2 separate regions of the Homo sapiens genome follow, and region 2 is linked to region 1. The links come from fine-mapping of genetic effects on gene expression. A gene starts in region 1. The other region holds a variant in brackets. All regions are shown on one strand. Distances are from middle to middle.

Region 1 (5,377 bases):
TTGTATTTTTAGTAGAGACGGGGTTTCACCATGTTGGTCAGGCTGGTCTTGAACTCCTGACCTCGTGATCCGCCCATCTGGGCCTCCCAAAGTGCTGGGATTACAGGCATGAGCCACCGCGCCTGGCTCGGAACATTTTCATAATCACAGAAAGTTCTATCCGCCAGCACTGTTCTAATCGGTTATGCATCTATTGGGAGAAATCTGTGTTTCTTGTCTACATTAGTGAATCTCATATTATGATTTTCAGATCCACAGAGGGCCTTTAAATTAAAAAAAAAAAGTCACATAAATCAAAGTTTTTTTCCACATGTATTTTCTACCACAGATTGGTTGTAAACTGCTGGACATTAAGGATCATGCCACGTTATTTTTTTCTTCAATATCTACTGCTATCCATTCCTTTATTCTACAAATATTTACTGAGTCCCTACAAACTGCAAACACTGGGAGAATGTTAAAAATATGTAACACAGTATTTTGGCCTTTGAGTGGCTTACAATGTAGTTAGAGGAACAAGAGCACTGCCCAAAAATAAAAGCACTGTAAACATTAAATTACAATATAAAAGAAACCACAGGACAGTGTATAAATATATTTGAGTGGACACTAAAGATTACAGGAAGTTTTTAAAAAAGGTATTACTGAATCGCTTGAACCCAGGAGGTGGAGGGCGCGGTGAGCCGAGATCATGCCATTGCATTCCAGCCTGGGCAACAAGAGTGAAACTCCGTCTCAAAAAAATAAATAAATAATAATTTAAAAAAGGTATTACTCTGGAACTTAGTAGTAGTAAATATTCACAAAAGATGTTGGAATTGAAGGATGGATATTTCCTAATTTGGTAGAGGAAGGCAATTTCAGGTATGGAGAGAGGCCTGAACAAAGGTGGAATGCCTTTGAGGGCAGGCAAATCTGGCTGGTGCAGACCATTATGGAGGTTTGAGCGGACAAGTAATTGGAAATAATGTTGGAAAAGTGGGTTGGGACTAGTATGGTACTTAATGGTTTGAATTTTGTCCTGAGACAAAATTTAATACTAAATATAGTATTAAAGCAAGAGAGTGATAATGGAAAATGTTGGTTTTCTAAAAGCTTAATACAGAGAAGTATTTAGGTAGATGAAGGAAAGAAGAGAATGGAAGCAAAACATAACATTTTGAGTTTGAAGTTAGGGTGCACTCAGTAGGAAATGCTTAATAGGAAGCTAGAGGTACCCGTATGTACCTGGAGTGTGGAAAGGTTAAAAAAGACACTAAAGAGATCTAGTTTTGGTAGACATCTGCGTGATGATTACAGCTGAAACCATAATAGGTGGATTCTTTAAATAATATAAGGGTATAAAAGCAGCCAGGCTAAGGAATGGCCTGTATCCAGCATCTAGGGATGTCTTCCCCTCACCCCAAGATGGTGCCCTTCTGATTCAGGCAGCAACGGGCATGCAGCATTAGCTCTCGTGTCGTTTTACAATAAAAGGCCACTTTTGACAAATTTTGCACGCTCCCTGGACATTGGGTGCATATCTGCAGAAGAGAAAGAAACATTAGAACTCCAGAAAGAAAAGCCAAGAAAAGAACAAACGGCGATCAAGAATTAACTGCCAGTACACGTTTCCAGAATTCCTCTAACACGGGGCCGATAAATGGATAAACGGCTCGTGTCCCACCCTTGTAACAGGCTAGGCTAGGAGATGCCATCTCTTCCTCCAGAGTCCTGCGCCGAATCAGCTCCCGACACTTTCAGTACCAGATATCGCACAGGGAAGGTCCTCATCTCTGAAGATCACTATTCGAACTTATTTATTATGCTTTCTGCAGAGACTTCTCAATCTGACAGCCCTAGTTTGGCGCGGTGTAAAACGACCGCAGGTACGTAAAGAACTCATCAAGCATTACAAAAGTACAGCCCTACCACCGCACGATATATGGCGTTCGTGCGTAGAGAGATTACACAAGAGGCAGAGGACCCGTCTGTAGAAAGAACTTAAAGTTATTCTAAAATTAAGGGGCGAAATCAAGTTTCACAGGTCTTTGAAAGTCGGCAGGACTGGGGCGCCGAAGGCCTGCACGACGTGAGTACTTGGGAACAGGACCTGGCTGGGCAGGGTCGGGAAGCGTCAGGGACGAAATCAGAACCGCAGGCCCGCCGAGGAGAAGGGGGAGCCGCTGGCGAGCGCGACGCACGGCTGGCCAGCGACCCTGCTTCAGCCCGACCTCAAACTTGCTTCTGTACCTCGGGTAGCGCCAGAGCCCTTTCCACGCCCAGAGCGAGGAGCAGGGCGGCAGCCCAGGGCACCAGGGTCGTAAGACTACCCGGGTCGTGAGGCGCCATTTTCCGTTCCCTTGGTGCTCCGCTGCTCGCGCGACCCGGCCCCGCGGCCCCGCCCCGCAGCGCGTCAGGCCCTCTTCCCCGGGCGTGGCCTAAGCGGCCCGGTCCAGTCGCCCTGGGGCTGCTTGGGGGCTTTTCCTGCTCGTGGAGCTCTGCGCTGGTCTTCATGCGCCCTAGCCCTCTTTCGGGGATACTGGCCGACCCCCTCTTCCTTTTCCCCTTTAGTGAAGGCCTCCCCCGTCGCCGCGCGGCTTCCCGGAGCCGACTGCAGACTCCCTCAGCCCGGTGTTCCCCGCGTCCGGACGCCGAGGTCGCGGCTTCGCAGAAACTCGGGCCCCTCCATCCGCCCTCAGTAAACATGGCGGCACGGCGAGCGGGGCGGGCAGGGGGCGGGCAGGGGGCGGGGCCCCCGCGGGCTCCCGGCCAGGGCTCTCGGCCGGGCTCTGGCTACCCACGTGTGGAGACCGGGCAGGTGGGCCTGGAGAGCGTGAGCCGGTGCCGAGAGGCACCGGGGAGCGGCGTCTGAGCCGGGGCGGGGACAAGGGGGCGGGGAGGGGCGGAGCGAGCCGGCCTCCGGCGTGGGTCTGAGATCTTAAGTGCGAGCGGTAAGGTGGTGGTCTCCGCCGCGTAGAGGGAAGCGGGAAACCGAGAAAGAACGAGGGTGAGGGTGATGAGGGAAGGGCAAACCTCAAACTCCAGCGGGAGGACACGAGCCTGGATCGCCCCGGGCACCTAGTCCTCTTCACCTCAATGCTGATAGCGCATAGCGTCCCGGAGCCTGGCGAGGAGGTAGGAGCGGGATAGACGCTTCCCTAACTCATTTTCTTTGCCTTCCCAGGAAAAGGGAGCGATGTTGATCTCAGGAAGCACAAAGGGACCTTCCTAGCTCTGACTGAACCACGGAGGTAAGGGAGTGCGTTGCTGCCCCAGGGTGGGCCAGCGCCCTGACTGAAGGGCGCCAGGGGATCCCTGCTCCCGGCGCGACAGTGTTGGTTAGGGCCAGCCAGAAAGCTCCTTAAAGCCGACCCAAGTGATCATCTCGAGTAGCCGAGCCAGGCTTCCCTTCCACATTACCCCCATGGTGTCTGCCTGGAAGTTCCTGAAAGGTTTACGTTTAGCTGGCTGGCAAATTTTCTAAGGTGTTAGTAGCTATTAGCATTTTAAGGAGGGCCCCCAAAGCCTTTCACACCTTGAGGAATTATAGGCCCCAGGACAGATTTTGAGGGAATCTTTTTGGAACAGTTAGTCCTGCAGTGGTCTCATTGCCTTTTGTAGGAGTCAATGCGATCCACTGCAGTGTGTGACCAAAGTGAGTTCAGGTTTTTATTTTTATTTTTATTTTTATTTTGAGACGGAGTCTCGCTCTGTCGCCCAGGCTGGAGTGCAGTGGCGCGATCTCGGCTCACTGCAAGCTCCGCCTCGCGGGTTCACGCCATTCTCCTGCCTCAACCTCCCGAGTAGCTGGGACTACAGGCGCCTGCCACCACGCCTGGCTAATTTTTTGTATTTTTTAGTAGAGACGGGGTTTCACCGTGTTAGCCAGGATGGTCTCGATCTCCTGACCTCGTGATCTGCCCGCCTCGGCCTCCCAAAGTGCTGGGATTACAGGCAGTGATGTGGGACCCCTTTTAAAAACCTGAACTTGGCCTGGCGCGGTGGCCAGGCCACCGATCCGCCAAGGCAGGTGGATCGTCATGTCAGGAGTTTTGAGACCAGCCTGGCCAATATGGTGAAATCTCGTCTCTACTAAAAATACAAAAAAAAAAAAAAAAAATTAGCTGGGCGCGGTAGCACATGCCTGTAGTCCCAGCTACTCAGGAGGCTGAGGCAGAAGAATCACTTGAACCCAGGAGGTGGAGGTTGCAGTGAGCCGAGATCGTGTCACTGCACTCCAGCCTGGGCGACAGAGCGAGACTCCGTCTCCAAAAAAAAAGGGGGGGGGGTCCCACAATCTGCTGTTTGTGCCTTGGCATGTTATAGTTGTAGTGAAACAACAGCTAGCTCTTGCTTTTGGCCGCCCTCTTTCTGGAGAGATGCGAGACCATAGCGTTTGGATCAATGTAGGGTGTTTAGAAAACTACAGATCTGTTCTCAGAATCTGGTCTGTTGCTAGGTCAGGTTTTTCCTGTCTTCCCTGGGGCTCTCTCAGGCCATCCAGGGGAATTCTCCATACATCATGCAAATAGAATTTTATCAGGAAGTCCCATCAGCAGAGTGTCTTTATTTCTGTACCTCCGTGTCCCATACTGGGACTTTCCTTCCTGTCTCTGGCCACCTACCTCTCTAAACCACTAACCCTATAGTTAGTTCTTTGTTCTGTGTTCTTTGCACACAGGAGACCTCTTCTTTCCTCTTACTCCCCAGTAGTTCCCATCATCTCTATCATAGCAGTAAAAACTTGCCAAAGACGAATGAGAAAACTCAGGGTGTTGCAATGTGCAAAGGCCCAGGGCATGTTTAGGTTAAACCAGAGTTTAAGCCTGTTGGGAATCTTGTAGAACATGTGATCCAAGAGTTGCCAGGTCTGATTTTCCCTCTTTATTGGCCCCAAGAGGTTCAGAGTTCAGGTTTAGTCTGCATGAGGCCATATCTTGCCAGCCAGCCAGTGTCTGCCCAAGAACACACTGTGGGAGAGCGGAAAGGCAGCCTAATCTTTCTCCTAGTGGGCAAAAGCAGAAGACATAGTTTATGTTAGTCTGTCTCTTGATTAGTTGAAATCTAAACTATGTCCTGTGAATGACTGACTGCAACACTCTGCTCCTGTCCTGGTTCTGGGAATAGTGAGGACAGGGCCCTTGCTGAACACCTGTCATAGCTGCAGACAGCACTGTTTCTCTCTCTCTTGTTTTGTATCATGCTGCATAACCTTGAGCAAGTTATTTAATCTCTCAGTTTTCTTGTGTTAACTGGAGAGTATTCGTGTCTTAATCTGAGACATGCTGTTTTGAAAATGTTAGCTTCATTATGTATTATTACTAATGTTTATAAAGCACCTCACACACTGCTGGGTTACATAGCAGGTGTTCAGCAAATGTTAACTGTCGTCATG
Region 2 (5,377 bases), 35 kb after region 1:
TTGTGAGTTCCCTGCCCCCTGCCCCAAATCAGACAAAGACATCACAAGAAAAGAAATCTACAGAACATCATCCCCTATGAATACAGTGCAAAAATATTCAAAAATATTAGTAAACAAAAACTAGCAGCTTGGCTGAACACAGGTTCTAAAAACAAACAAAACAAAACAAAAAACAACAAAAAAACACTAGCAGCACACAAAAAGGGTTTTACACCATGACTAAGTGGGATTTATCCCAGGATTGCAACTGTGGTTCAGCATATGCAAATCAATTAATGTGCTATGCCACATTAATGAAATGAAGGGGTGAAACCATATGATCATCTTAATAGATGCAGATAAAGCATTTTACAAAATCCAACACCCTTTCATGATAAAAACACTCAACAAACTAAGAATAGAAGGGACATTCCTCAACCTGATGAAAGGCACTTATGAAAAACTCACAGTTAATACTATTATAATTAATGATGAAAGACTGAAGTTTTCTCCCTAAGATCAGGAATAAAACAAAGATGCCTATTGCTGTCACTTTTATTCAACCTTGTACTGGCAGTTCTAGCCAGAACAATTAGGCAAGAAAAATATATATAGAAGTCATCCAAATTGGAAAGGAAGAAGTAAAACCACCTGCATTTGCATACAACATGATTTTGTATATAGAAAATCCCAAAGAATACACCAAAAATACTATTAGAACTAAGAAACAGGCCGGGCAGGTAGCTCACACCTGTAATCCCAGAACTTTGAGAGGTGGAGATGGGTGGATAACTTGAGATCAAGAGTTTGAGACCAGCCTGGGCAACAAGCAAGACTCCATTTCTACAAAAAAAAATTTGAAAATCAGCTGGGCATAGTGGCGCACACCTGTAATCCCAGCTACTCTGGAGGCTGAGATGGGAGGATTGCTTGAGCCCAGGAGGTGGAGGCTGCAGTGAGCTGAGATCACACTATTGCATTCCAACCTGGGTGACAGAGGGATACCCTGTCTCAAAAAACAAAAAAAGAAGAAAAAAATTAGTAATACAGTTACTTATATAGCATATTTTTGTCTTAAAATTACGTCAGGAAGTTTTTATTTCTATATTATTCCAATAAAAACAGATGCATGAGAAGAAGCACCCCCTTTTCTCCTGTTCTCCTTTGCTGGATCAAGTCATATCTTCACATATTGTCTGGAATTGCTACAGCTATTTTGAAACCCAAAGTGAAAGCATCATCAACCTGCTGAGGATAGCAAGGCAGAAAGACAAATTCATCGGTGGACCTGGATCTGTGATGACTTCATCAAGGCTCTGAGCCAATCGTGGACCACCTGGCCTCCAGACATCATCTTATGTGAAATGATGGCTGTCCTTATTGTGTAAGCTATTTGGTTTGAGTATGTTCTGCCTAGCAGCTAGAAGCGTCCAACTGATGCCAATGCTTCTGGTAAAAGTTGTGATTAAAGCAGATAACGGTGTTAGCTGACGTGCTGATAAAATCGGAATCAGTACATGGCCAAGTCATGGATCTGGTGGAAAGTATTCAAATAGATCAATGCATGCTTGGTGATGCTGGTGCCTGTCATCATAAACATCCATCCAGGCCATCATGATCACCTCCGAATGGTACAGGACTAAAGTCCAATTCAGGATCTACACACCCTGCTTATAATAATGCCCTAACTTCCTTTGAAGATGAAACGCATTTCTCTGTGTTCTTTGAACTATTGTACAGAAAAACTTCCCCAGGAAACTCTTTGAACTCATATTTGTTTGTTTCTCATTAAACAAAACAAAAAAAAAATTGGCCAGGTGCGGTTGTTCATGCCTGTAATCTCAGCACTTTGGGGAGCTGAGGCGGGCGGATTGCTGAGCCCAGGAGTTCAAGGCCAGCCTGGGCAACATGATGAAACACTGTTTCTACTAAAAAATACAAAAATTAGCCGCGTGTGGTGGCATGTGCCTGTAGTCCCAGGTACAGGAGGGAGGCTACAGGAGGCTGAGGTGAGAGGATCACTTGAGCCCAGGAGCCAGAGGTTGCAGTGAGCCGCGATCACACCACTGTACTCCAGCCTGTGCAACAGAGTGAGACTGTCTCATAAAGATAAAAAATTTAAAAACTGGCCAGGTGTGGTGGCTCATGTCTGTAATCCTACCACTTTGGAAGGCTGATGTGGGCAGATCGCCTGAGGTCAGGAGTTTGAGACCAGCCTGGCCAACATGGTGAACCCCTCTCTCTACTAAAAATACAAAAATTAGCCGGGCATGGTGGTGCATGCCTGTAGTCCCAGCTACTCAAGAGGCTGAGTCAGGAGAATCGCTTGAACCTGAGATGCAGAGGTTGCAGTGAGCCGAGATTGCATCACTGCACTCCAGCCTAGGTGACAGGACGAGACTCTGTCTCAAAAAAAAAAAAAAAAAAAATTAAAAAACTAAAAAAAATTATACATTTCATATAGTTTACAAGTCAAATAACCTAAAAAGGCATACACTTGAAAGATTCACTCTCTTGGTGGTGTGTGGCGCCTGTAGTCCCAGCTACTTGGGAGGGTGAGACAGAAGGACTGCTTGAGCCCAGGAGTTCAAGGCTGCAGTGAGCTGTGATAATGCCACTGCACTCTAGCCTGGGCAACATAGTAAGACCTCATCTCAAAAAAAAAAAAAAAAAAACAAGACTCACTTTCACCTTATCCCCCATCTGCTCCAGTTTCCACTAGAACAAGTAACTGCTTTTTATTGTTTTGTGTGTGTGTGTGTGTGTGTGTGTGTGTGTGTGTGT[A/GTA]TCTTATGCAAATAAAACAGAAATGATGTATGATCTGGTAGCATAAAATACACACTGCTTTGTACTTTTCGTCTTATCCATTTAAAATCTCTTTTCACATTACTGTCACAGCAAAATATGAGAAAGAACTGTTTCCCATAGAGCATGTTGTCAAACTTTGAGTTTTTATCCATATGATAGGTGAGATGGGTTTTTTTTGTTTTGTTTTGTTTTGTTTTGTTTTTAGAAGGAGTCTCACTCTGTCACCCAGGCTGGAGTTCGGTGGCATGATCGCAACTCACTGCAACCTCCACCTCCCAGGTTCAAGTGATTCTCCTGCCTCAGCCTCCCAAGTAGCTGGGGCTGCAGGTGCGCGCCACTGTGCCCAGCTAATTTTTGTATTTTTAGTAAAGACAGGGTTTCGTCGTGGTCGCCAGGCTGGTCTTGAACTCCTGACCTCAAGTGATCCACCCGTCTCAGCCTCCAAATGTGCTGAGAATTACAGGTGTGAGCCACTGTGCCTGGCTATGAGACAGTATTTCAGTGTAGCTTTAATCTACACTTCCCTTTATTATTAATGAGCTGGCCTCTCTCTTTGTGTTGCTAACTGGCCATTTGTATTCCCTTCCTGAGATCTGTCTGTTTATATTCTTTCTCCATTTTTCTATGGGGTTTTGGTCTTTTTCTTAATGATTTCTAGGAGCTCTTTAAATATTAGGGAGATTATCCCTATGTTTATGACCTGAGCTCAAATACTGTTGTCCAGTCTGACACTTGCCTTTTGATTATGCTGATAGTGATTTTTGCCTTGCTGATTTTCTTCACACTATTTTTAGGTTTAGAAGTAGAACAGGGAGGGCTGGGTGTGGTGGCTCATGCCTGTAGTCACAACACTTTTGGAGGCCAAGGCTGGTGGATCACCTGAGGTCGGGAGTTCGAGACCAGCCTGACCAACATGGAGAAACCCCATCTCTATTAAAAACACAAAATTAGCCAGGCGTGGTGGCACACGCCTGTAATCCCAGCTACTCGGGACGCTGAGGCAGGAGAATCCCTTGAACCCGGAAGGCGGACGTTTCAGTGAGCCGAGATCGCACCATTGCACTCCAGCCTGGGCAACAAGAGCGAAACTCCATCTCAAAACAAAGACAAACAAAAAAAAGAAGTAGAACGGGGAGAAGGAGCCAGGAAGAAGACTGAGTTGATTAGGAAACCTAGAGAAGTGTTTCAAGAAGGATGGAGCTGGGAGTAATGCCAGAGGCCAAAGTGGAAGGATTGCTTGAGGCCAGGAGTGAGCTGCCAGGCTGTACTGAGCTATGATCACACCACTGCACTCCAGCCTGGGCGACAGAGTAAGGTCCTGTCTCTCAAAAGAAAAAAAAAAAAAGGAAAGAAGAGAAAAGATGGAGTAGTGAAATCAAATGATGCCCAAAACACAAAAACATAGCGACACAAGACCACAGAAATCGACATCAGCTTTGGCAAAAGGGAGGCCACCAATAACCTTACCAGTGCTGTTGTAGGAGTGAGCTGGAGATGGGCTCTTGATTGGAGTGAGTGAGTGAGGAAAGACAATGGAGACAGCAATAATAGAGAGCACTTAAATTTTTTTGCTATGCAGCAGGCCAGGGAAATGTGGTGGTAGTTAAGGTGGGGAAGTGGGGTCAGGAGTTTTGTTTAATGGGAGATGCCATGCTAGAGAGTGTTTGCATGCTAATATACGTGAGAGAAATGATCCAGTGGAGGGCGAGAAGCTGAGGATGCAGAAGGCAGAGGGAATAATTTTAGGAGTGAGGCCCTTTGGAAGAGCAAGAGGGGGTGGGATTCTGGCCCCAGAAAAGAACAGGCCTCTGGTGGGAAGGGGCGCATCACCCATGGTGAGCCTGGACACGCCAGCTGGGAAATGGGTAGCTGTGGTAACAGCCACATTGCACCTTGGTGAAATCATAGCTCACTGCAGCCTGGCGCCACCATAGCTCACTGCAGCCTTGTGCGACCACAGCTCACTGCAGCCTGTCTGAAAACAGGGGATTACTGCCTGATTGCTCTTGTTTTTGTCATGAAGTACGTGGTGATGGCAAGCTGAGAGGTTCTGAGGAGAAAAAAGAAGGCGAGAAATAAATGTGTTAGAATGTAAGAAAGAAAACATATCAGGGAAGATTGCCACAGAGTGTTGAGTGCCTATTTGAGATTTTTGGTTGAGAATTTTGAGGCAGGCCAGTGAACACAATCGTGTATTCATTTCCAGCAGTGTTCAGATGAAGTGTAGAGTGGGAAGACCGTGCAGGGTCGGGATGTTGCAACGCAAAAACAGTGGGAGAGGAGGGGTAAGGGATAAGGATATTTGCAAAGGAGCAATTACAACAATGAACATAGAATCTGGGATGAATAAAGAGGAAGTAAGGACACGAGGGAAGATGGTTAGTAAGACAGAAGGAAGCAAATGAATTAAAGGTCTCAAGAAGACTGAAGAAATACTGGACTGCAGGCATGAGACTGAGATGGAAGGATAAGACATAGGGATCACAATATCCAATCAGAATGCTTAAAATAGAGATTCTGAGAATGGTGTATTATTGGTTTTGACAAGGTTAAGGGCATGACCATAGAAATGGGTGGCTGAAGAGAGAAAATA

Alleles and levels. Positions count from the first base shown, and alleles are read on the strand shown. Sizes are in standard deviations (SD) of each study's normalised expression.
For the expression in transverse colon of the gene that starts at base 2,659 in region 1, GTA is the low allele of the variant in region 2 and A is the other (small effect, 0.37 SD a copy in CEDAR).

Evidence for each region. PIP is the estimated chance that this variant, and not a neighbour inherited with it, causes the effect.
Region 2: its variant is fine-mapped to the expression of ATRAID in transverse colon (CEDAR, PIP 0.90).

What each region holds. Positions count from the first base shown.
Region 1 is chr2:27,209,323-27,214,699 of GRCh38, reverse strand. It overlaps ATRAID (all-trans retinoic acid induced differentiation factor), which reads right to left and starts at 2,659. Exons shown (of 7, transcript NM_001170795.4): 1 at 2,233-2,659; 2 at 1,402-1,523. The coding sequence starts at 2,331. SLC5A6 (solute carrier family 5 member 6) reads left to right here and starts at 2,432. Exons shown (of 17, transcript NM_021095.4): 1 at 2,432-2,680; 2 at 3,167-3,233. RefSeq lists silencers at 2,236-2,485, 2,676-2,995 and enhancers at 3,778-4,575, 4,530-4,589.
Region 2 is chr2:27,174,165-27,179,541 of GRCh38, reverse strand. No RefSeq gene overlaps it. Among named protein-coding and RNA genes, the nearest start is that of TCF23, 28 kb to the right of the region's middle. The variant A/GTA (reference allele first, on the strand shown) is at 2,764.